2 linked regions of the Homo sapiens genome follow. The protein of the gene in region 1 purifies or fractionates together with the protein of each later gene. This does not show direct contact. Each region holds a gene or a part of one and is shown in the gene's direction. Other genes may lie near its edges.

Evidence for each region.
Region 2: the proteins of SWAP70 (region 1) and PACSIN2 purify together in Homo sapiens (affinity purification with mass spectrometry; 2 studies listed by BioGRID and IntAct, with this or other methods). This does not show direct contact.

What each region holds. Positions count from the first base shown.
Region 1 is NC_000011.10:9,738,811-9,751,355, forward strand, and holds part of SWAP70 (switch-associated protein 70), read left to right. Parts: intron 1-1,370; coding exon 1,371-1,537; intron 1,538-9,047; coding exon 9,048-9,246; intron 9,247-10,276; coding exon 10,277-10,373; intron 10,374-11,053; coding exon 11,054-11,160; 3' UTR 11,161-12,545.
Region 2 is NC_000022.11:43,009,381-43,021,954, reverse strand, and holds the start of PACSIN2 (protein kinase C and casein kinase substrate in neurons protein 2), read left to right. Parts: upstream 1-6,805; 5' UTR 6,806-6,934; intron 6,935-12,574.

The sequences.
Region 1 (12,545 bases):
TGATTTTGCCACTGCACTCCAGCCTGGGTGACAGAGCAAGGCCCTGTCTCCAAAAAAGAAAAAAAAAGAAATTTGTGGAATGATGTGATAAATGCTTGGTTAGGGTGACTATATTTCCTGGTTTGCCTGGGAGAGTCCCTGCCATTCTGGTATAATTATTAATAACATTCCTTTTCATTCTCAAAACAGTTCTGATTTGGAAAATAAATAGTTATGGAAAAAGTAAGCATAGGTTCCATGGTATATCTCCTCTGTAATAAGCAAGGATGGCGGGGGTGAGATCCTGAAATTGTGAGAACATCTAGAGTCTGATTTGTTGCTCTTGGCAGCTCCGGTTCATCCTAGAGGCTTCCATCTTCAAGAGACCCAAGATCCAGGTTGTCTTAGGTAGTTAGCTGGTTAGCTGGAACACAGGTCTTCTCACATTGAGTGATACTCTGTCAGAGAGTGCTAAGCCCAGTGCCTAAATAGATGCATGTGACATTTCCTCTAGTCACTTTTTGTTATTTAGAGTTGAAAGAGATGTGTTTGTGGTTCAGAGAAAAGAGGAAGGCAAATGTGATGTAGAGAAACAGCCAGAATGTCTGGTCTTGTTTCCTCTCTGGTCCTTCTTACTGAACATTGGCTTTTTCTTCTTTAAGTTCAGGATTATCACATGCTCTCTCATGACTCTTCTGAAGACAGAGTGAGCTAATGCAAGTGAAAATATTTTATCAACTGCAGAGAAATAGGCTAATGTGTTTGTTATATTTAGGATGTTCTTGTCTTGTAATTTTTAAGGCAGGGATTCAAAACTCTGTAATCCAGAAGGGAAAAACCATTAACGTATACAGATTAACTGAAATGCTTGAGTTCCTCTAGGGCTGGAGGTGCCCCAGGGAGTGGAGACAGCCAGGGAAGTGTGGGAGGAATCCCATGCTGGATGACCTTTCCTTCTTCTTTAGTGTAACACTAAAGAAGACTGGGAAAAGGTTCGTTTGCTCTGACTGGGAAAAGGTTCGTTCCTTTTAGAGAAGACCCTATTGGTAAAAAGATTGTGACTTTAAGACAGAAAGGAATTTAGAGAGAAATTACACAAGGAAACATTTTTTTCTTGACTTGAGTCTTAAAATGTGGAGTGGAAGGGATGGAAAATACAGCAGGGCAGAACATAATTTGGGTTATAATTTGCTCTTCCCAGACTCTTTCACTATTGCGATTGGGTGTGGTACCCTCATCTCCTCCATCTTTAAGTTCAAGGATTGAAGGACAGGGTCCTGCCACCCTGATGGGCTGAGGCTGCAGCTGTGGGCAACCCCTCAGGTGGAGGTGAGGCTTTCCCTGAGAAAGAAGTCAACCTGCATTTAAACAAGACCCTTTTATACCAACAGATCAGACAGCAGATGGAAGAACAGGTTGCTCAAAAGTCCTCTGAACTGGAACAGTATTTACAGCGAGTACGGGAGCTGGAAGACATGTACCTAAAGCTGCAGGAGGCTCTTGAAGATGAGAGACAGGCCCGGCAAGATGAAGAGACAGTGCGGAAGCTTCAGGCCAGGTGCCAGATTTGTTTGCAGACTTTGCCTTTATGTACTTTGCCTGGGCTAATACAGTTTCTTGGAATGACTAACACTCTGGTGGAGAGGGAGAAGTGTCTCTGCTCTGGCTGTGACTGAGCTCGAGGTGCTGTCCAGATTAGAAAGACTGTGGAGACTCGACCGGCTGGAGTGTTTCTTTTCATTCTGAGGCGCTGGGAAACCCTTGCTTCTGGGGCTAAATAAGGGCCTATTTTAGAGCAGTCTGGTAGGTATGTTTGATGAGGTACCCTTAGTCTTATTCGAGAAAATCCACAAACCCAGAATTACCTCTGATAAGAGCTTGGCATCTTCAACACGCTCCAGACCAGAGAGGGCCATTGGTATGCAGGCAGAGGCCTGTTCAGGCCAACGTTGCCGTCAGGTTTTGAGGAATAAGGAAGAAATATGCAGTTTCTATTTGGTCATTCAGGATTGGTAACATTCCTTCAGTAATTACTACTTGAAATCCTAATTTTAAAAGTATTTGAAACCTAGATTTTTTTTCCCCTTAGAACTTTATGATAGTCATGTTCGCAGATGAAAATTCTCAATTTTGGGCCTTCATGGCAGCAGGGAGGACAAAATAAAATGAAGACTCCCAAAGGGAAAAATTGAGCCTATCCTCTGCCAGTTTCTACTTTGCTGCCCCATTTACATTATTTAAGGTGTCTGGGATGGGAGACAACACTAAAAAGTATTCACTACAGTAGCAGCACAGGGTCCAGTCTTTGATCTCTGACCCCCTGTTTTGGGGAGCAGTTATGAGATGAGCTAGGGTAGATTTTCCATGGCTGCCATTTTACATGTGGAGCAGCAAAAGATGTTTCTTTAATCTTTAGATAGGAAGAGAAAGAAGAAGCCATCTTTAGTTGTATATTTTGCCAAAAGTGACTTCAAAAATAAATAAATTGTTTTGGACATTTAGATTTTAAATTTAAATTTTTTTAAGGAAAAATTATTTTCTAAATAGAAAATTAAGCATGTAGCATATTGCCAGGCATATATAGGCCCCACAGGTGCACATTCACTGCACTGTGAGGTTAATCAGGTTCTTGGAACTCCCCTCCAGTGCCACTCGGCAGTGATTTTAGCAGAAGAGTCACTCTACGGGAATGTTTGAGTGCCATGTGACGTCCAGAGTGACGTTCTACATGACACTCAACATTTTTTGAGCCACCTCATAATTTGAGCCGTGTTGAGAGTTAATAGATTGTTTTTGTGCAAAGAATTCGCAGGTGAAATATGCTATATGTATTACTGCAGTTTTGTGGGAAGTTGATTATGACACAGCAGAGACTAGATCACAGAGGGAACCAGATAATTCTAGAAATACTAGTCTTAGTTATTTAGTGTTTATAGAATGAGTGATATTTTGAATAAGGGATAATTTTGGATAATTGAAGCCAGTGGTTTTTTAACCAATGTTATGTATCAGAATCACCTCACAAAGCTTCTGAAAAATACACCACAAAGTGTGGCTCACCCACCACACTTTGGGAGGCCGAGGCTGGAGGATCACTTGAACCCAGGAGTTTATGACCAGCCTGAGCAACATGGTGAAACCTCATCTTTAAAAAAAAAAAAAAAAAAAAGTCTACTTGGGAGGCTGAGGCAGGAGGATCACTTGAGTCCAGGAGGTTGAGGCTGCAGTGAGCTGCATTTGCACCACTGTACTACAGCCTGGGGGACAGAATGAGACCCTGTCTCAAAAAAAACACAAAACAACAACGGCAAAAAACTCCAGCTAATTATTTTGCACACTCTGATTTAAGCAATAGCAAAATGGTTTCAACCTTTTGAATCCAGATGTAACTTCTACATACAGCTCTGATCCAATATGCTGAAAGTACTGCACACAAATTTAACTTTTTCTTAATGTGCAAAGGGCATTTTATGAATATAATTATTTTATTATTCTAAATTTTTTTTTCTCTTAGTTTTTGGAACCTGAAATGGACAAATTTGCCCCCCTGCTCCCTTTTTTTTTCTGAGATGGAGTCTTGCTCTGTTATCAGGCTGGAGTGCAGTGGCGTGATCTCGGCTCACTGCAATCTCCGCCTCCTGGGTTCAAGCGACTCTCCTGCCTCAGCCTCCCGAGTAGCTGGGAGTACAGGCGCGCACCACCACACCTGGCTAATTTTTGTATTTTTAGTAGAGATGGGGTTTTGCCATGTTGGCCAGGATGGACTCCATCTCCTGACCTTGTGATCCGCCTGTCTCGGTCTCCCAAAGTGCTGGGATTACAGGCATGAGCCACCACGCCCGGCCTAGTGGTCATTTTTAAGTGAAATGTGTTCCTCTTTCCTGAAGTCACTGAAGGCTGTGGCTGATTCAGAGGGACTTTCTGTCAGATTGGCAGAGAGGGTTTGTTCTTTGCTCCTCAGGATAGGCCTTTCTGGATAGAAAAATCAAGGGAAGTCATCCTGGAGTTGGGTTGGAAAACTGGCACTAATGAAATGCACATAATCTTACGCCAAGGGCCTGTGTAAAAGGCTGCTCAGTTAACTCTTCTCACTCCTTTTTTTTTTTTTTTAATTTTATTATTATTATACTTTAAGTTTTAGGGTACATGTGCACAATGTGCAGGTTTGTTACATATGTATACATGTGCCATGCTGGTGTGCTACACCCATTAACTCGTCATTTAGCATTAGGTATATCTCCTAATGCTATCCCTCCCCCCTCCCCCCACCCCACAACAGGCCCCGGTGTGTGATGTTCCCCTTCCTGTGTCCAAGTGTTCTCATTGTTCAGTTCCCACCTATGAGTGAGAATATGCGGTGTTTGGTTTTTTGTTCTTGCGATAGTTTACTGAGAATGATGATTTCCAATTTCATCCATGTCCCTACAAAGGACATGAACTCATCCTTTTTTATGGCTGCATAGTATTCCATGGTGTATATGTGCCACATTTTCTTCATCCAGTCTATCATTGTTGGACATTTGGGTTGATTCCAAGTCTTTGCTATTGTGAATAATGCCGCAATAAACATACTTGTGCATGTGTCTTTATAGCAGCATGATTTATAATCCTTTGGGTATATACCCAGTAATGGGATGGCTGGGTCAAATGGTATTTCTAATTCTAGATCCCTGAGGAATCGCCACACTGACTTCCACAAAGGTTGAACTAGTTTACAGTCCCACCAACAGTGTAAAAGTGTTCCTATTTCTCCACATCCTCTCTAGCACCTGTTGTTTCCTGACTTTTTAATGATTGCCATTCTAACTGGTGTGAGATGGTATCTCATTGTGGTTTTGATTTGCATTTCTCTGATGGCCAGTGATGGTGAGCATTTTTTCATGTGTTTTTTGGCTGCATAAATGTCTTCTTTTGAGAAGTGTCTGTTCATGTCCTTCGCCCACTTTTTGATGGGGTTGTTTCTTTTTTTCTTGTAAATTTGTTTGCTCACTCCTTTCTTAAAGCAACAGCCGATCATTCGTGGAATATTTGGAATCTCATTATTCTTTTAATGGATAGTTCTTTCTCTGTCAGTCTCTTAAAAAGACAGTGTCTTAAAAAAAAAGAGAAACTTTTTATAGTAAATTGTTTAAATGAAAGACAAGAACTTTAGCTTGAAACACGTAGATCTTGTAATTTTTTTTTTTTTTTTGAGACGGAGTCTCGCTCTGTCACCCAGACTGGAGTGTAGTGGCGTGATCTCGGCTCACTGCAAGCTCTGCCTCCCAGGTTCAAGCCATTCTCCTGCCTCAGCCTCCTGAGCAGCTGGGACTACAGGCGCCTGCCACCACGCCCAGCTAATTTTTTGTATTTTTAGTAGAGACGGGGTTTAACCGTGTTAGCCGGGATGGTCTTGATCTCCTGACCTCGTGATCCACCCGCCTCGGCCTCCCAAAGTGCTGGGATTACAGGCTTGAGCCACTGCACCTGGCCAGATCTTGTAATTTTAAAAATTACGATTGAAGTTTTTTATTAACTTTTAATTTTTGTGGGTACACAGTAGGTGTTTATATTTGTGAGGTACATGAGATATTTTGATACAGGCATACAATGTGTAATAATCACATCAGGGTAAATGGGGTATCCATCACCTCAAGCATTTATCCTTAGTCTTACAAACAGTCCACTATACTGTTTTAGTTAGTTTTAAATGTACAATTAAATTATGATTGACTATAGTCACCCTTTCTGCTATGAAGTTTATTTTTTTATGTGTAATCCTGAAGGTGATCTAGCCACTTCTGAATGAGAACTCAGAAGAAAACTGTTCATTTAAAATGTAGAATACTCAAGTTATTGGCCGGACATGGTGGCTCACGCTCTAATCCCAGCACTTTGGGAGGCTGAGGCGGGCGGATCCCTTGAGGCTCGGAGTTTGAGACCAGCCTGGCCAGCATGGTGAAACCCTGTCTCTACTAAAAATACAAAAATTAGCTGGGCGTGGTGGTGCATGCCTATAATCCCAGCTACTCGGGAGGCTGAGACACTTGAATCCAGGAGGTAGAGGTTGCAGTGAGCTGAGATTGCACCACTGTACTCCAGCCTGTCTCAAAAAAGAAAAAAACAAAAAAGAAAAAATTAAGAAAAATCGAGTTATTGGAAAGTTCTTGAGGCTGAGCCATAATCTGTCCTGTTGTAACTCTTACCCACTTTGGATCTGTAACACCCTGGAGTACACCTTAGTCGTGTCTGTATTCCCAGCAACTCGTACCTGGCACACAGTAAGTACCCAGGGAAATTTTTTTGAATGAATGAATGGATCCAATGGGACCACATGGAACAACAGTCCCTCTTACATTTGATATAATACTTTTCATATATTTGAAGGTTAGAGACTGGGCTCTGGAATGAGGCCACGGTTTGATTCCTGGCTCTGGTACTTTTAGCTGTGTAACTTGAGAGAATGGCCAACTTTATACAGTTGTTGTGAGGATGAAATGAAATGATGCATGCAGAGTGTTTTAGAGTAATGCCTAGCATTTGGGAGTCACTCCGAGTGTGTTGCTTTCTGTTCCTTTATCTCATTTGCAGACGGGGAAGATATATAATGTGTGGAATGTAAAAATAAGCATTCAGAAAAAAGATGTTGACAGGCTAGAATGATGATTTTAGACCAAGAAGCTAATTTAACATATCAAAAGAACAAGTACAGGATCCAGGAGACTTGGCTTTATAGAAATTCATTTGAAAAGTTCTACAGTTTCATTTCCCTGAAATGTGGTTGCCAAAACCCTATACACTCTTAGGCAGCCTTAATGAATGTGAAGTGTCCAGAGCAAATGAGATAATTGTCCCTCTATAATATGAGCTGTTACCTACCAGTACTTGCTGTGTGGTAGGCATGTAAACACCTTATGTGCATTATCGCATTTAATACACTAATAAACCTTTGATGGTAGGTGTAGTTTCTATTCCTTTTTTGATAAATGAGGAAGCCGATACACAGAAAAAGAGTGAGGCACTGAAGTCTTTAGTCAGGAGTCTTACTTGCGAACCACAGAAACCACCTTGTATTAGCTAAAGCAATAAAACAATTTGTTGAAAGTTTCTTAAATAGTTTGCCAGTTCCACAGAAAGGCAGGTGACCAGGCCTTGAACACAGGCAGGAATCACAGGGGGATGAGCAGCCCCAACTACAGCCCAAGCCAGGCCATGGGAAGAGTCCAGTGAGGATGCCGCTGGCGCCCATGTTGGTACCAGGCATCAGCAGTGCCATCGCTCCTGCTGTCACTCAACACTGCATATTACTGCCACCGGCAAGATGAATTCTCTACTGGCTCTGCTTCTTTGTGCCAGGTGCTTCAGAGTCAAAGTTCCAGAAGGAGCATCTACATAGCCAAGCCCAGCTTGTGCCTCCACCATACCCTAGCTGCCAAGGGGTGGGAGGGCAGGTGTCTGGCCTGTGGATTCTATAGCGGGAAATGAGCCCTACCTTCCATCAAGTCTTCTACTATGGCAGTTCCCCTAGACACATGAAGGAGTTCAGAGGCTGGGCAGCCTAAGCACCTGGAAATGTCCATTCCCCCTCCATACTTTTACCACTAGAATGAAAAAACAGACCCATCCAGTCTTGTTCATTCTTATATCCCCAGTGCCTAGAAAAGCACGTAGAAGGCACATAAAAAATACACATCAACTGAGTGAATAAACTCTGCACTGGTCAGACCACATCTGTAGTGTCGTGTTCTGTTGTGTACATCAAACTCCAAGAGACATCTGAGGAGACCTCAGTGTCTCCAAAGAAGGATATTGAGTCTGGAAGCTGGGTCCCATTAGTTAAGGCTGGAGGTGGTCTTCTTGGAGAAGGATGTTCTCAACAGGCAACAAAGCTGCCTTCCAGTTGCGAAAGGGCTATCACAGGGAAGAGGGAGTAGATACTTCCTTTGTGGAACTAGGGTAGTGGATGGGAGAACTCATCTTAGTATAAGAAAAAACTTCGTAAGAATTGAAGCTGCCCATAAATAAACTGGCCCAATTTGTGAGGCAACGAGTGGTAGCCCATCACCTAGAGTATTGGAGCTGAGTTGAATAACAACCTTGCAGGAAGTTGTAGAGGGAATTTGGAAATTGGTGTTGGTATAGTCTGTTACTTTATTCCTTTGTTGTTAGTTTTATAAGAGCAGATGCTGGCAGGTAGTAGTAACTGACCAGTCATGTGACTTGACTTTGTTACCATAATATTGTTGCTCAAGCCACTAGATATGTATCCTGTCCTTGGCTGGCATCGAACGACACTATATACACTTTAATGCAGGTTTTGGCTGTTTGTTAGTTTATTTAAACAACTACATAGCTGGGTATTCCCAGATAGGTATTCCTGTTATTTTGGAGTCACACAGACCTGGGTTAAAATCCATTATAACCTGTGCAACATACTTTTAAACCCTTTGGTTTTTCATTGCTTCATCTGTAATGTAGGGACAATACCTTTCAGGATTGTCAGGGGATTAGCAATAATGGAGGCAAGGGCCTGGCATGTAGCAATTGTTCAATAAATAGTATCTCTATTCTGTCTGCGTTCACTCCTTTCTTCATCTTCATTATCAGCTTTTTCCATGGTAACAGGTTTTTACTAGATGAAAATGTTTTCATGTTGTAGCAACCAGGCAAACTTCAAATCTTGGCCCTGCCACCTGGCAGGTGGATGATCCTAGTACAGGCCACTGAACCTTTGTGTCTCACTTGCACCATCTCTAAAATATGAGTAGCAGCACCTAAATTTACTGTGAGGATTAATTGAGAAAATACACTTGACTCTTAGGCCAGTTCCTGGCACACATTAAACTCTGGATAAATGTTATTTTTTATTTCACAAACGGGTGAAACTGAGAGAGCTTAGAGCAGGACATATAGGCTGCTTTACCAGCTTTGTGAATATGAGCTTCTCTGGCTCCTGCTTTCCTCCTGGTGGAATGAAAGGGGGATTAGACGACCTCAAATATTCTCTTGTCTAAAATGCTTCCCTCGTCTGCTGGGTCAGGGTGGTGACCTGGGCAGGATTTGATCTGGAGCTTTCCTCCACATTGTAGGTTGTTGGAGGAAGAGTCTTCCAAGAGGGCTGAACTAGAAAAGTGGCACTTGGAGCAGCAGCAGGCCATTCAGACAACCGAGGCGGAGAAGCAGGAGTTGGAGAATCAGCGTGTCCTGAAGGAACAGGCCCTGCAGGAGGCCATGGAGCAGCTGGAGCAGCTTGAGTTAGAACGGAAGCAAGCACTTGAGCAGTACGAGGTAATGAGACTTGGCCCTGCAAACTTGTATATTTAAATTTTTGAAAAACATTTCTCAATAATAGAATTATTTGCTTAGCTGCCAATATGAAGCTGTAGTAAGAATCTTGCTTAGCTGTAAGAAAGAAAAAAGAGGGAGTTTTTACAGGAGATAAGATATATTATACATCCATCAGAGACAGAAACTGCACAGTAATTTGAACAGGGAAAGTTTAATATAAAACATTATTAACTGTCATAGGAGATTACCTACTGTGTTGTAAAGAAGGCTTTGAGAATGCAGGAACAGCAGACGTAGGGAGCAGCCACTGCCTCGAAAACTGAGGCAGAGCACCAGGGAGGGAGTGGATCTGGAAGAGCATTCTTTGCTTCTTGCCCCTTAACCCCAGTGTTGTGATCCATACCTCCATGGAGAGGGTGCACAGATGGCAGAAAAGTTTGTTGAGGTGCTGTGCCAGCAAAGCTCACTGGGAGGCCACCGGCAAAAGCTGCCCACAGGGAGGTGCTACAGAAACTCACTGGTGGTGAGCACTGTGGGTGTTCTGAGTGCCACAGGAGCCGCTGAGTGGAACCTAGAAGAAAAGTCCCTCCCTCCTCGTGTCCCTTCAGCACCCTCTACTGACAAAGCTTTATGCTGCCAGCTAGTGAGGAGAATTATTTTAGTTTCACCAGCAGGACAGTTCAGGGTGGATTTGGAGTGGAGAGGCAGTAAACTGTAACTGGCACACAGGGCCATACACCCATTGTAATTCGTATGCAGATGGTGGAAGAATAGGCTTTGGAATCAGACAGCCTGGGTTCCAATTCTGGCTCTACCATTTCCTGCTGTGTGACTCTCGGCAGGTTACTGACCTTCTCTGAACCCGTTTTCACTCTGTACAATGGGGTAATAGTAGTTCCCACTTCTTAGAATGGGCTATGAGAGGATTTAATGAGATAATTCACAAATACATAGTAAGGGCCCAATAGTTGTGATTTGGTTCTTAAACTACCCGTGTGTCTGCATAGTCCAAAATCCACTTTTGTTTCAGGAAGTTAAAAAGAAGCTGGAGATGGCAACTAATAAGACCAAGAGCTGGAAGGACAAAGTGGCCCATCATGAAGGATTAATTCGACTGATAGAACCAGGTAACAGACTCTATGAAGTAATCATATATTTATTTTTATTTTTCATTTTTATTTTATTTAATTAATTTATTTATTTTGAGATGGAGTCTCGCTCTGTCGCCCAGGCTGGATGGAGTGCAGTGGTGCGATCTTGGCTCACTGCAAGCTCCGCCTCCTGGGTTCATGCCATTCTCCTGCCTTAACCTCCCAAGTAGCTGGGACTACAGGTGCCCGCCACCACGACCGGCTAATTTTTTGTATTTTTAGTAGAGACGGGGTTTCACCGTGTTAACCAGGATGGTCTTGATCTCCTGACCTCGTGATCCGCCCGCCTCAGCCTCCCAAAGTCCTGGAATTACAGGCGTGAGCCACCACGCCCTGCCCATATATTTATTTTTAAATTTATTTTTCTGTTTCACTTGTGTATTTGAATTGTACTAAAGAAACTTTTTTAGCCCAAATGTAAAAAAACCAAGCTGTTCAGGATAAATTTCTCTTGAAAATCTTATCCCCTAATAGGTAAGAGGGCCCAGTTAATCCCCTTGGTATACATCTTCTAATTGTTTTAGCTGGTATGACATTTATGCATGTTCCTCAAAGAAGAAATAAAGTAGGGAAGTTACTATTTTGTCTGTAGAAAAATGATGGGGTATCCTGAAGAATATAATACTTCCTGTATTTAAAGCATGTTTGCCTCTTAGGTTCAAAGAACCCTCACCTGATCACTAACTGGGGACCTGCAGCTTTCACTGAGGCAGAACTTGAAGAGAGAGAGAAGAACTGGAAAGAGAAAAAGACCACGGAGTGACTGAGCTTGCTGGCAGTCACGTCAGTTATGTAGATACTGCATGGCAGGAGAGCTTTACGCTAAAGACAAAAGAAACAGCTTTGGGGGCCGGGCGTGGTGGCTCACGCCTGTAATCCCAGCACTTTGGGAGGCCGAGGCGGGTGGATCACCTGAGGTCAGGAGTTCAAGAGCAGCCTGGCCAACCTGGTGAAACCCTGTCTCTACTAAAAATACAAAAAAAATTAGCTGAGCGTGGTGGCGGGCGCCTGTAATCCCAGCTACTTGGGAGGCTGAGGCAGGAGAATCACTTGAACGTGGGAGGCGGAGGTTGCAGCGAGCTGAGATCATGCCGTTGTACTCCAGCTTGGGCAACAGAGTGAGACTCCATCTCAAAACAAAACAAAACAAAACAAAACAAAAAAACCCGGCTTTGCTGCTTTTAACTCTTCTTCCTTCTGTGCCTCTCTAAGTGGGTCAGTATCCTAAGGAAGCCTTCTTATTTATCTTCCTGCAAACAAGGGTTACCTGAAAAGAAAAAAAAAGTCAACATTGTCAAGCTGTTTGTTTACTCTTTCTTTGAAAACATCACCTTCTGAAATTTGTCTTTTAGCTCTCTCAGATTCTTCCCCAAATGAGGCAGGGTGCAGACAGCACAGTCAGCTCTGCAGAGTTTGGAGGGGCTCACTGCCACTGGGTACTCAGAACCTCTGTGGACTGGATGTCAGCTCTTTCCTTTGGCAGCGTGTTTCCTTTTCCGAGTATGTGCTGTTAAACTAGATTGGCCGGTTCGCTTTCCATTTCCTGACACTTGACATGGAATGCCTTTGACCATTGGTGCTCTGACAGAGAAGTCATGGAGTCATTGCCATTTCCTGGTTGCCCTTTTGGAATGTGATCCTGTTAGTAGAGGTTTTCTAGCTTCTACTAAGATATTTCTTTCCCTAACCATCATACACTTGGCATGTTTCATTCCCATCTCCTTTCCCCTCACCTTAAAGGAGACTACCCCTTTGCCCCATATTGTCAACCTAATTTTCTCTCGTACTCTCTCTAGTGAATGATGTGCTACCAAGTATATGCCAGGCTGTGAGAGGATTATACTGAGTAGTAGAAAGAAGCTAATTTGAAATAAAAATTATTTGTATAATTAAGAAAGCAGATTAGATGCACATGGTCAACAGGAAGTTGACTGTATGTCTGCTAGTTAGATTCAAAACATCATAAAGATGATAGCATGTCAATATATTAGCCTAGCCATTATGTTAGCCTTTGTTAGGTGGGCAGCTTTTCTGCTTTTTCCCTTCCTCTGTGGTGACAACGGAGGAAATATCCAACAGAAATACGTCTAACAGGGAAATTGGGATCATAGTTTATATGCATCTGATTTGAAAGGAGTATTGAGGAAG
Region 2 (12,574 bases), on another chromosome or scaffold:
CTGGCAGGTATTTTATTTTTATTGGTATACAATTTATAATGTATGTATTGGTGTACAGGTTATTTTACAAGTTCAAGTTAACAACATTTATTTGTCATAGGGCTGGGCGCCGTGGCTTATGTCTGTAATCTCAGTACCTAGCACTTTTTTTTTTTGGCAGAATCTTGCTCTGTCGCCCAGGCTAGAGTGCAGTGGCATGATCTCAGCTCACTGCAACCTCCACCTCCTGGGTTTAAGTGATTCTCATTCCTCAGCCTCCCAAGTGGCTGGGACTACAGGCGCCCACCACCACACCCGGCTAAAATTTGTATTTTTAGTACAGATGCAGTTTTGCCATATTGTCCAGGCTTGTCTCGAACTCCTGGCCTCAAGTGATCTGCCTGCCTCGGCCTCCCAGAGTGCTGAGGTTACAGGCATGAGCCACTGCGTTTGGCCAATCTCAGCACTTTCAAAAGCTGATGTGGGAGGATCGCTTAAGACCAGGAGTTCAAGATCAGTCTGGGCAACGTAGTGAGACCCCATCTCTGCAAAAAATATTTAAACCATTAGCCAGGTGTGGTGGGACATGCCTGTAGTCCCAGCTATTTGGGAGGCTGAGGCTGCAGTGAGGTATGATCACACCATTGCACTGCAGTCTGGGTGACAAAGCAAGACCCTCTCTCAAAAGAAAAAGAAAAAAAAATAAATAGAATGTAAGGCACATATGTAATCTTGTACCCACATTTAAAAAGTATAAAAATTCTCGGCATGGTAGTGCCTGCCTATAGCACCAGCTACTCGGGAGGGCTGAAGTGGGAGGATCACTTGAGCCTAGGAGTTTGAATCCAGCCTGGGCTAACATAGCAAGACCCTGTCTCCAAAAAGTATAAAGAAACGGTAAAATTATTTTAAAAATTAGGAATGCAAAAGGTTTATGGAAAAAAAATAAAAAAAGAGAAAATATTTGTTATAAAGTTAATCAGGAAGGGCAATGTTACTTTTTTGATGCATTTACATTTTGAGACTGCTGCAATGTTTTAAAAAGTAGCCTCATTCACGCCTGTAATCCCAGCACTTTGGGAAGCTGAGGCAGGCGGATCACGAGGTCAGGAGATCGAGACAATCCTGGCTAACACACGGTGAAACCCCGTCTCTACTAAAAAATATAAAAAATTAGCCAGGCGTGGTGGCAGGTGCCTGTAGTCCCAGCTACTCGGGAGGCTGAGGCAGGAGAGTCGCTGGAACCTGAGAGGCGGAGCTTGCAGTGAGCCGAGATCGCGCCACTGCACTCCAGCCTGGGCAACACAGCGAGACTCCGTCTCAAAAAAAAAAAAAAAAAAAGTAGCCTCAGTATCTCATTTTACCTTACACTAAGGCAATCTGGATTCACAGCAGTTGCATCCAATAACTTTAAAAAAAATTAGTTTTACAATTGCAGGATGCCTTTTAATTTATCTAATTAGGAGCTGGCAAAAGGTAAGATGATTGGCTGGATTCAGAATGGAATCTGTTGGCTTCTGGGACCTCCTCATCCTCCTGCATAGCAAGGACTCAAGGAGGGACTATTGCCGGAGTTTATATCTTCCTCCCAGAGTAGAAAATACTTTAAAATGTATCACATAAAGCCTGGGCATTGTTAGGTTTTCATTCCAAATTTTAAAACAGTTACTTTGAAATTGTTGACACTGGCCCACTTTGGTACAAATGGTAACACTGTAAACCCGAATTCTCCAAATGAGCTTTTCCACTTAGTAAAATAAGATAGAAGTAGAACCAACTGAAGAACTTGCAAAAAAATTGAGTGATCCCATGGCCGGGCGTGGTGGCTCACGCCTGGAATCCCAGCACTTTGGGAGGCCGAGGTGGGCAGATCATGAGGTCAGGAGATGGAGATCATCCTGGCTAACACGGTGAAACCCCGTCTCTACTAAAAAAATACAAAAAATTAGCTGGGCGCAGTGGCACGCGCTTGTAGTCCCAGCTACTCGGGAGGCTGAGGCAGGAGAATGGCGTGAACCCGGGAGGCAGAGCTTGCAGTGAGCCGAGATAGCGCCACTGCACTCCAGCCTCGGCGACTGAGTGAGACTCCGTCTCAAAAAAAAAAAAAAAAAAAAAAGAATGGATTGATCCCAATTCAGGGCACCTGGGCAGTGCCCAGTGCCCACTTGGGAAGCCCTGTTTGTATGCTGCTCCATACCTACCTTTGTCTGGGAGCAGGCTCCAGCCGGGCATGGCAGGAGTGGAACATTGTACTTGCTGGTACAATTTGACGTGAGCAGACATGTGCAGCCAGAATGGAACAAAACAAAACAAAGCCAGGGAGATTGGGGTAATTGCCTCCTAATCAATGACACATTTACAAAGAATTCAGATCTTTACACGTACTTGGCAGGTGAGCATGTCATTCAGAGGTATGTTCAGAAATGTGTTCCTCCAGCCGCCATAGTTAGTGCTTTGATATGGCCAAAATATTAACAGTTGGTGCACAGCACGTGTTCTTAGGTTTGTTTTCCATTTATTTATTTATTTATTTATTTATTTATTTATTTATTTATTTTTGAGACAGGGTCCTGCTCTGTTGCCCAGGCTGGAGTGCAGTGGTGCAATCTTGGTTCACTGCAGCCTCAATCTCCTGGGCTCAAGTGATCCTCCCACCTCAGCCTCCTGAGTACCTGGGACTACAGGCCTGCACCACCACGTCTGTCTAATTTTTTTTTTTTTTTTTTTTTTTTTTGAGACCAGGATCTCATGATGTTGCCCAGACTGGTCTCCAACTCTTGGACTCAAGTGATGCTCCCGCCTTGGCCTCCCAAAGTACTGGGATTTTAGGCGTGAGCCACCACGCCCAGGCTTTTCTTTTAGACACGATTAAAAATTTAAAAAAGTGAATATACCCTGAAGCACTTTTACAAAATCAGGGGTCCTTGAACACACTGAACAATGACCTGTGCCAGGCCCCATGCTGAATATTGCAGAGCGAACTCACAAATCCTCACAGATTCTCTAAGCTAACAATCACTAGGTTTTGTGATTATCCCCGTTTTACAGTAGGGAAAACCAAGGGCTGGAGTAGTGAAGTCACTTGCCAGGGCCGCAGAGCTCCTTGCCGCTCGGCTGCCTTACTGCCTTGTTTCCCCTGGCTTCTCTTTGTGCCTGCAATGCAGCCAAGTGGAACCCTCCTCTCTTCCTGGACAGGAGGAGTTCTTGCCTCCTGATCTTTGCTCTCTGTAATCTTCCACTCATTTTGGCTCAGGTAAACAGCACTGTTTTCAATACCACTGCACCCTCTTCTGTTCTAAACTCTATGTCCTTGCCAGATCTTTCCAGGAACATCAGCAGGACCCAGGTCCACCCCGAGCCACCTTCCCTGCCTGGCACGTTCTAAATATTGGAATTATTGAGTGAGTGAATGTCTGTAACTGATTTTGATTTTTTTTCTTGAAAGACATGTATCACTGTACAATCCATAAATCACTGTACTTATCACACTGAAAATACACGTATCACTGTATTTTCAGCAATACAACTATATCTGGATGTTTTAAATTTTTTGAGAATATGATATTCTCTGTGCAAGTATGTTTTAGCCCAGACTGTCTGTTTATCCAGGCTGCTTAGTGGGAAATGGTTAATAAAGGACTAAACTAAAGCCGGTCAGTCTCAGTCCCAGGCACTCTGTGGCAATGGTCACATTTTGGGGGAAGGAAGGAGCAGCTGACAAGGCATGACCACATGTCCACCGTTCAGACACAGCATTCACAGCCGTGTGCCCGGAACAGCTCTCCATGCTTTGACTCCTTACCACAGCCCTGTTGCTCTTCCTAATCCCCATATCACGGAGGGGACACAGAGGTGCAGAGAGCTGCAGTGACTGGCCCAAGGCCCCTTGGCTGAAAAGGGGTGGAGGCAGGATTGGGCTCCAGGCCTGTTCAAATATGACTGAAGGAGGAGGCTGGATGGAATGTTGTGAAATGTTTGTGGGGAACAAAGTTGGGGTGCTCACATGTGGCAACGGGGAGCTATCTTTGGAAAAATACCCTGATAAGCTGCCAGGACAGAAGGTATAAGGCCCAAAGAGTTCAGGCAATGATGTCAAGCTGCTAGGTGCAAGACAAGGAAAGGAATTTTGTGTTTGTCCTGAGAAGGAGGAGGAGAGAAAAGAAGAGGGGGAGAGTGCAGAAAACCAAAGGCATGTGAAGTGGCCAGAGTGTGGCATGGGTCACGTGACCAGGTGGTGACTCCTGGGGCCAGGCAGCCAAAAAGGCTCACGAGGCATCCTGTCTTGTTGCTGGGCAGTGCCAGGCTTGATGCCTCTCTCCAGCTTCCAGTCTTCAGGAACCCCTGCTAGACTCAGCAGTGCTTGGAGTGCAGGGGGATTCGTGCAACTGGATAAGGGGATGATGGTGAGACCAGTGAGCATGCGGTGTGTGGAAGAGCAGGAGGCCTGATGACAGACGCTTGTTCAGAAACCTTGGGAGAGGCTGCGTACAGTGGCTCGTGCGTGTAATCCCAGCACTTTGGGAGGATGAGGCAGGAGGATTGCTTGAGCCCAGGAGTTCAAGACGAGCCTGGGCAACATGGCGAGATTCTGTCTCTACAAAGATTTTAAAAAATAATTAACTGGGCATGGTGGTGCGCACCAGTGGTCGCAGCTACTTGGGAGGCTGAGGCAGGAGGATGGCTTGAGCCTAGGAGGTCAAGGCTGCAGTGAGCCATCATTGTGCCACTGCATTCCAGCCTGGGCATCAGAGTGAGACCCTGTCTCAAACAAACCAAAACAAAAACCCCCAAAAATTTGGGAGAGGCTCTGTATTTCTTTTTTTTTTTGAGGCGGAGTCTCACTCTGTTGCCCGGGCTGGAGTGCAGTGGCGCGATATCAGCTCACTGCAAGCTCCGCCTCCCGGGTTCACGCCATTCTCCTGCCTCAGCCTCCCGAGTAGCTGGGACCACAGGCGACCGCCACCACGCCTGGCTAATTTTTTGTATTTTTAGTAGAGACAGGGTTTCACCATGTTAGCCAGGATGGTCTTGATCTCCTGACCTCGTGATCCGCCCGTCTCGGCCTCCCAAAGTGCTAGGATTACAGGCGTGAGCCACAGCGCCCGACAAGGCTCTATATTTTTATAGGGCATGGAATTGCGATGTAAGCGGAACTTACCCAGATATGAAAGTGCTGAGAGCTGATGGCTGAGTTCTATCTATACAAATGGTCCACAGGTATTGTGGGTGGCAAAGAGGTCCCTGTTGGCTCAGTCCTGGAGAATGAGGAGAGACTTCTTGGCAGTGGTTTGTCCTGGCACTGTGTGTTGGTTTTTTTTTTTTTTTTTTGAGATGGAGTCTCGCACTGTCGCCAGGGCTGGAGTACAGTGGCGTGATCTTGGCTCACTGCAACCTCCGCCTCCCAGGTTCAAGTGATTCTCCTGCCTCAGACTCCCAAGTAGCTGGGATTACAGGTGCATGCCACCACACCCAGCTAATTTTTTGTATTTTTAGCAGAGACAGGCTTTCACTGTGTTGGCCAGGCTGGTCTCAAACTCCTGACCTTGTGATCTGCCCGCCTCGGCCTCCCAGAGTACTGGGATTCCAGGCGTGAGCCACCGTGCCTAGCCGGTTCTTTTGTTTCTTTCTCAATTATTGTCATAAGGACAATGCCACAGAGCAGTCTAGAAAGTAAACAACCACTAGATTTCTTTGTGGACTCTTTTCTCATACCTATCTATATGTAGCAGCAATTCTACAGTTTCTACCATTTTGTATCTAGCTTTTTCTTTTATTATTATTTTCTTTTATTTTACTTTTTAGAGAACTGGGTCTTGCTATGTGGCCCAGGTTGGCCTCAAACTCCTGGGCTGAAGCGATTCTCCTGCCTCGGCGTCCCAAGAAGCTGGGATTCCAGGTGCATGTCACCATGCCTGGCTCTATCTGGCTTTTTCTTTTAACGTTTTAGTTTAAGCATTTTCCCATAGTGCTACACAGTCATCATTATTATTCTCAAGGGTTGGGCTGACCTGGGTTTCTAATCCTGGCTCTGCCATTTACTCTCTTTACTCCACATCACCCCCAGCAAGTTACCTGGCTCACCCCTCACCTGGGGTTCCTCTCACCATCCTCTCCACCTGGATGACATGAAGCAGTGCTTGGACAGCGCGTAGGACAGTGCTCAGGAAGTGCTCTCCATTTTCCTTCAAGAGTATTTCCCTCTGCAGAACGGGGCTAATACCCTATCATGCAAGGTGATTGTGAGAATTGGAAAGAATGCGTGTGCATTGCCTGGTGCCTTGCCATCCAAATATATTTTATTAGAGAGAGCAGCAACATACGCCCCCCCAACCCCCCGTTTAAACTAAGCGGGTCCACGTGGAATGACGCTTTTGGCGCAAGTCGGAGGAGCTCCTAACGACATTAGCTTCTTTGAGTCCCTTGGGAGAGGAAACTTTCTGAAAGACTGTAGGATTACCTTCCCTGAACTTCCGGTCAGGTGCGGTGCTGCCCTGCCGCGCCCTCTTACCCCTGGATGCCGACGAAACCGCAAAACTCCAGCCCCGGGAAGCGCGTCTCAAGGACCACCACCAGCGAGCGGCTTTGGGAGAGTAATCTGCGCCACCCTCGCAGCCCATTAAATAGGCACTCCCCGTTTGATTGACAGGAGAAGTCACCAATGCGCGTCCTGGGGCTTTCCCTCGTCCTCACGCGGGGTGAGCCGCCTCTCTACTCATCTGGCCCAATCGGGGGCGCCGGGGAGGCTGTGGGGCGGGGCTCGGTGTCCGGTAGCCAATGGACAGAGCCCAGCGGGAGCGGCGGGGGCGGTGCGGTCGCGGCTGGCGGCAGAAGCGGCCGCAGGGGTCTGGGCAGGGCTGGGCAGTGCTGCCGGAGCAAAAGCGGTAGCGGGAGCCCGGCCGGAGCTGGGTCTGGAGACGCCGTGGCAGCCTGAACGGAGTGTGCGACGGATTGGGAGGTGAGTGGCCGCCGAGGTCAGGGGTCGCCGCGACGGTTGGGGCGCCGCGGGCGGGACGCGGGGGCGCTGGTCCGCGGCCGGGCCCGCGCCCCGTCAGGGCCGCCGCGCCGAGCTCCGCGCCCTGAGGGAAGCGGGTCGGGCCGCGCGGAACTTCCTGTCTCTGTGGGAGGGGGCGAGTGCTCGGGGCCCCGGGGGGCGCCTGGAGAAGACATCTTGGGGAGGACGAGGGCGAGTGGGGTCGGCTCGGGGAAGGGGCGGGGGCCCATGGGGGCGGCGCTGTGGGAGCGGGGCAGTTTTCCGGGGTCCGGGGCCTGCTGGAGAGGGAAGTGCAGGAGCAGGGCCGTCGGGGGTTAAGAGCTGCTAATGAGTGGGGGAGGTGTAGACAGCTGCAGAAGGGGGAGCTGGGGCGACTTTTGGAGGGACGCGATTTAGGAGAAAGCTGGGAATCCGAGACGTGCAGAGGTTAGGCGAGGGTGCCGGAGCAACGCTGGAGGGAAGGCGTGGCTGGGACGCGCCGGTGAGAGGGCAGGGCTTAGTCCTGGGGTGGCCTGGGGGGCGACGCAGGACACACGCGGGTGCGCTGATTTCGGGCGCTTTGATGAGCGGCCTCCATTTCCTTCCTTCCCACCCTCCGTGTCCCGGGGGGGGGGGGGTGGTGTGTGTGTGTCTGTGTGTGTGTGTGTGTGTGTGTGTGTGTGTAGGGCGGGGGGAGCAAAGCCCTTACCGCAGCACGTCCTAGGGCTGGGGCCAAGCAGGAGAGGCCGGGGAGGTTTGCCCTTGTGACCCTCCTCAGAGTTTCCCCAGACTCACTGAATCAGAAATCCGAACTCCTTACTCCTCTAGGGCTTTCAAGCCTGGCCAGGCATCCTGAGAGGTCCGCAATTGGAGAGGTAGTGATTGCTGCTGCTGTTGAATTTCATTGATTCATTGGGTTTCGGCTCCATCAGAGAAGGTCGATTTTCTTTTCAGAAGGAGTTGGTTGGTCAGGGGAGCAAGCTGTGCTATTGCTTTGGGGCCCACACGGCTGCAGCCTTTGACGTATAACAGGACCTGGGGATGCCACTCTTGGCTTGGGTGCCTGAGGGAAGGTGGCCTTTGGCTGGGTGTGTGCACCATTCCTGGATCCTGTCTTCTCTTTTTCCCTCCGCCTGTCCGGTGTTTTTGTGGTTAAGGGGGTAGGCTGCTCAGAGTCTCCAGGGCTACTTGGTACACTGTTTACCAAATACTGCCTGGCTGTCTTGATGAAAATCAGGAAACCAGCTCAAAGAGTTTGAACCTCAGCTGCAGATGGTGAGCTCACACCTTCTTCCTTCCCTCCTTTTCGGTGCCTTCCTCTGCGGTTATTCCCGTGTGCTGAAGTTCTGTTTTAACCCTCCTGGGATTGCCAGGTTGGAGCCCAGGGCAAGGGAACCGACCAGGCAGGCAGTGTTGAATGCCAGCCCTCCTGTTCTTGCCCAAGATGTTGTCGTTCCACTTGATTCATGAGCCTGCCTGCATGCAGCCTCCTCATGGAGACATTGAAGCTGTGCCAGTGCAACTTGGATCTCTCTTGATTCACCTGGAAAACTTTCACTTGTGTGGACTTAAACTTAATTCTAGAGTTTGGTAGCCTCTTTGGTGAGGTTATGCTGGTTGAGATATGAGGCCACTACATCAAAAACATTGGTGTGTTTTTCTTTTGACAATAGACTTAAAGCTTTAAAGAAAGTGGCCATTAGGCTGGTGATATTTATTACTTGGGAAAGTAACATAACACAGAGAAGTAGATGGGTGATTAGGTCTGCACTCTTTATCCACTTTTTGGGAGAAGAATAACAACTCATTTGAATGGAAATGGTATCCTTAGCTCGTGCTGCTTTGGGACTTGGAACTTTATCACTTTTAATCTCAAATGTATATGAAGTTGTGATGTGATATTTAAATAATCTAGGCTGGGCGGGGTGGCTCACGCCTGGGATCCCAGCACTTGGGAAGGCCGAGGCGGGCAGATCACCTGAGGTCAGAACTTAGAGACCAGCCTGGCTAACATGGTGAAACCCCGTCTCTACTAAAGATACAAAAATTAAGGCCGGGCGTGGTGGCTCACGCCTGTAATCTCCAGCACTTTGGGAGGCAGAGGCGGGCGGATCACCAGAGGTCGGGAGTTCGAGACCAGCTTGACCAACATGGAGAAACCCCATGTCTACTAAAAATACAAAATTAGCTGGGTGTGGTGGTGCTCATACCTGTAATCCCAGCTACTTGGGAGGCTGAGGAAGGAGAATTGCTTGAACCCAGGAGGCGGAGGTTGCGGTGAGCCAAGATCCGGCCGTTGCACTCCAGCCTAGGCAACAAGAGCAAAACTCCTGTTTCAAAAAAAAAAAAAAATTAGTCTGGCGTAGTGGTGCACACGTGTAATCTCAGCCTCAGCTACTTGGGAGGCTGTGGCATGATAATTGCTTGAACCTGGGAGATGGAAGTTGCAGTGCACTGAGATCACACCACTGCACTCTAGCCTGGGTGACAGAGTGAGACTCTGTTTAAAAATAAATAAATCTAAAAGTATGCATATATTTAAAAAAAATTCTGGATTTCCACCAACATAGCATTCTGCAGGGAGATAACATGAACTTTTCCCTAATCCTGGATACCCATCCACATCTCTGATGGCCAGGCATTTCTGGAGTGGGAGCAGAGGGGCATTTGTCCTTGCTTTTTTTTTTTTTTTTTTTTTGAGAGAGAGTCTCTGCCCAGGTTCAAATGATTCCTCTGCCTCAGCCTCCTCAGTAGTTGGGATTACAGGCGCCTGCCACCTTGCCTGGCTAGTTTTTGTATGTTTGTATGTATGTATGTATGTATGTATGTATGTATGTATGTATGTATGTATTTATTTATTTTGAGACAGAGTCTCGCTCTGTCGCCCGGGCTGGAGGCAGTGGTGCGATCTCAGCTCACTGTAACCTCTGCCTCCCAGGTTCAAGTGATTCCCCTGCCTCAGCCTCCTGAGTAACTGGGACTACAGGCATCCACCACCACGCCTGGCTAATTTTTGTATTTATAGTAGAGACGGGATTTCACCGTGTTGGCCAGTATGGTCTCGATTTCCTGACCTTGTGATCCACCTGCCTTGGCCTCCCAAAGTGCTGGGATTACAGGCACCTGCCACCTTGCCTGGCTAGTTTTTGTATTTTTAATAGAGATGGGGTTTTACCATGTTGGCCAGGCTGATCTGGAACTCCTGACCTCAGGTGATCTGCCCACCTCAGCTTCCCAAAGTGCTGGGATTACAGGCGCCTGCCACCTTGCCTGGTTAGTTTTTGTATTTTTAATAGAGATGGGGTTTCACAGTGTTGGCCAGGCTGATCTGGAACTCCTGACCTCCAGTGATCTGCCCGCCTCGGCCTCGCAGATGTCCTTGCCTTTTGTTTCTTCTCTATACCTTGAAAGTCTGTGCTGTGTTAAGGGCGTCATGCTCAGGCTTACTGATTCTGAAGGGGTTATCAGTGGATGATTCCGGATGTTGTGGAATATCAAACAGATCGAAAAGTTTCTTTAATAATAGTGATGGCACCTTGTGTTTAGAGTTCGCAGTGGCATTTACCAGATGCTCTCTGGCCACCTTCATGTGAACCTCCCAGCTGACTCGGGCCTGCTTTATCTGCCATCAGATTGTAATGGCAGCTTTGTGGAGGCCGCCCTGTAGATTATGCGATTAATGACCACATTCATGTGAGCAATAGTGCTGGCTTAGTTTTTTTCCAGTTAGGTTGTTTGGAATGGTAGCTGCATACCTGAGGGCAGTGCAGCAATGCCTTAGTTACGAAGGCAGTTTGCATTCCACAGGTAGAGTCTTTCCTTATGGCCAGGGCACTGATCCCTCACATACCAGAAAGTATCATTCGTCCCTGCCCCAGACAGACTCCAGATGCGTCCCAGTGGTGGTTCTTGGGATAGTTTTGTAGGAATTTCTGCAGAATTTTAGTGTTCAGATGAGTATGCTCTGTCTGTGGACTGGAGACAGGCTTCAAAGAATTCTCAAATTATTCTGCACAATACATCATTTTTTGGTATCTCTGCAGTTCCAAAGGTAACTACTTGAGGGACAGTGGCCACCAAAGAGCACAAGTTTTGACATTTTGATGAAAAGCACACATAAAACAAATAAAAACCACCTTTCCTTAAGTTACCTATTGAATTGTGCTTATTCCCATAAATGCATGTTCATCTGTTTGCTTAATAAAACTTAAAGCACCATAGAGTCTTTCTTGTTTCCTAGAATAAGGTCTTTTTTCTTTTCCTTTCTTGTCTTTTTTTGTTGTTGTTGTTGTTGAGACGGAGTCTCGCTTTGTTGCCCAGGCTGGAAGTGCCCTGTGGTGTGATCTTGGCTCACTGCAGGCTGCGCCTCCCGAGTTCATGCCATTCTCCTGCCTCAGCCTCCCAAGTAGCTGGGACTACAGGCGCCCGCCGCCACACTTGGCTAATGTTTTGTATTTTTAGTAGAGACGGGGTTTCACTATGTTAGCCAGGATGGTCTTGATCTCCTGACCTTCGTGATCTGCCCGCCTCTGCCTCCCAAAGTGCTGGGATTACAGGCGTGAGCCACCGTGCCTGGCCGGTCTTTTTTATTTTCAATTAAAAAAAAATATATATATATATGTATTTTTAAACAGAGATGGGATTCCGCCATGTTTGCCAGGCTGGTCTCAAACCCCTGGCCTCAAGTGATCCTCCCATCTCGGGTTCCCAAAGTGCTAGGATTACAGGTGTGAGCTACCACACCTGGCCTATTTTCAATCCTAAAAAAATCATTTGCGTGTTTCTTGATTTTAGGCACTGAACTAGACGGAGATGAGAATATAGAAATAATAAAATGGGGCTGGGCGCTGTGGCTCACACCTGTAATCCCAGCACTATGGGAAGTAAAGGAGCAGATCACTTCAGGTCAGGAGTTCGAGACCAGCCTGGCCAACATGGTGAAACCCCATCTCTGCTGAAAATACAAAAATTAGTCGGGTATGGTGGCGTGCGCCTATAATCTCAGCTACTCGGGAGGCTGAGGCAGGAGAATCACTAGAACCCGGGAGGCAGAGGCTGCAGTGAGCCGAGATTGTGCCACTGCACTCCAGCCTTGGGTGACAGAGCAAGACTCTGTCTCAAAAAAAAAAAAAAAAAAAAATAGAAAAAATAAAATGATGTCTCAACTATCAAAGACCTCGCAAGAAGCCTTAAAAATGATAAATAAGGCTAGAGATTTTGCTGTACCTTTGGAAAGTGCATGTGTGGTGGTTTATAGTACATATTCTGTGGCCAGATAAAATTTATATGATTATTTTTCCTCCCAAGAATATGAGATGACAGAGGGGGAGGAGCGTGGATGGAGACTAGGAGCCTTGGGCTCTTGTCCAGCCTTTCCCTGACCAACCCTGAGGTCTGGGACAATCAGCACAGAACTCCAGGTCTCAGTTTTCATATTTGTAAAATGAAGGACTTAGAGGACCTTCACCTTTTGCAAATCTGATAGCAACTGTGACCCCTTCCCACGAAGGGGGACAGCTTCATAGGCGTGGACCCAGATTAAGAACTGGATTATTCCATCTCTAAGCTCCCTCTCACCTGTGATATTCTGTAATCCTATTTTCCTGGTCATCTTTGAGCTAATAA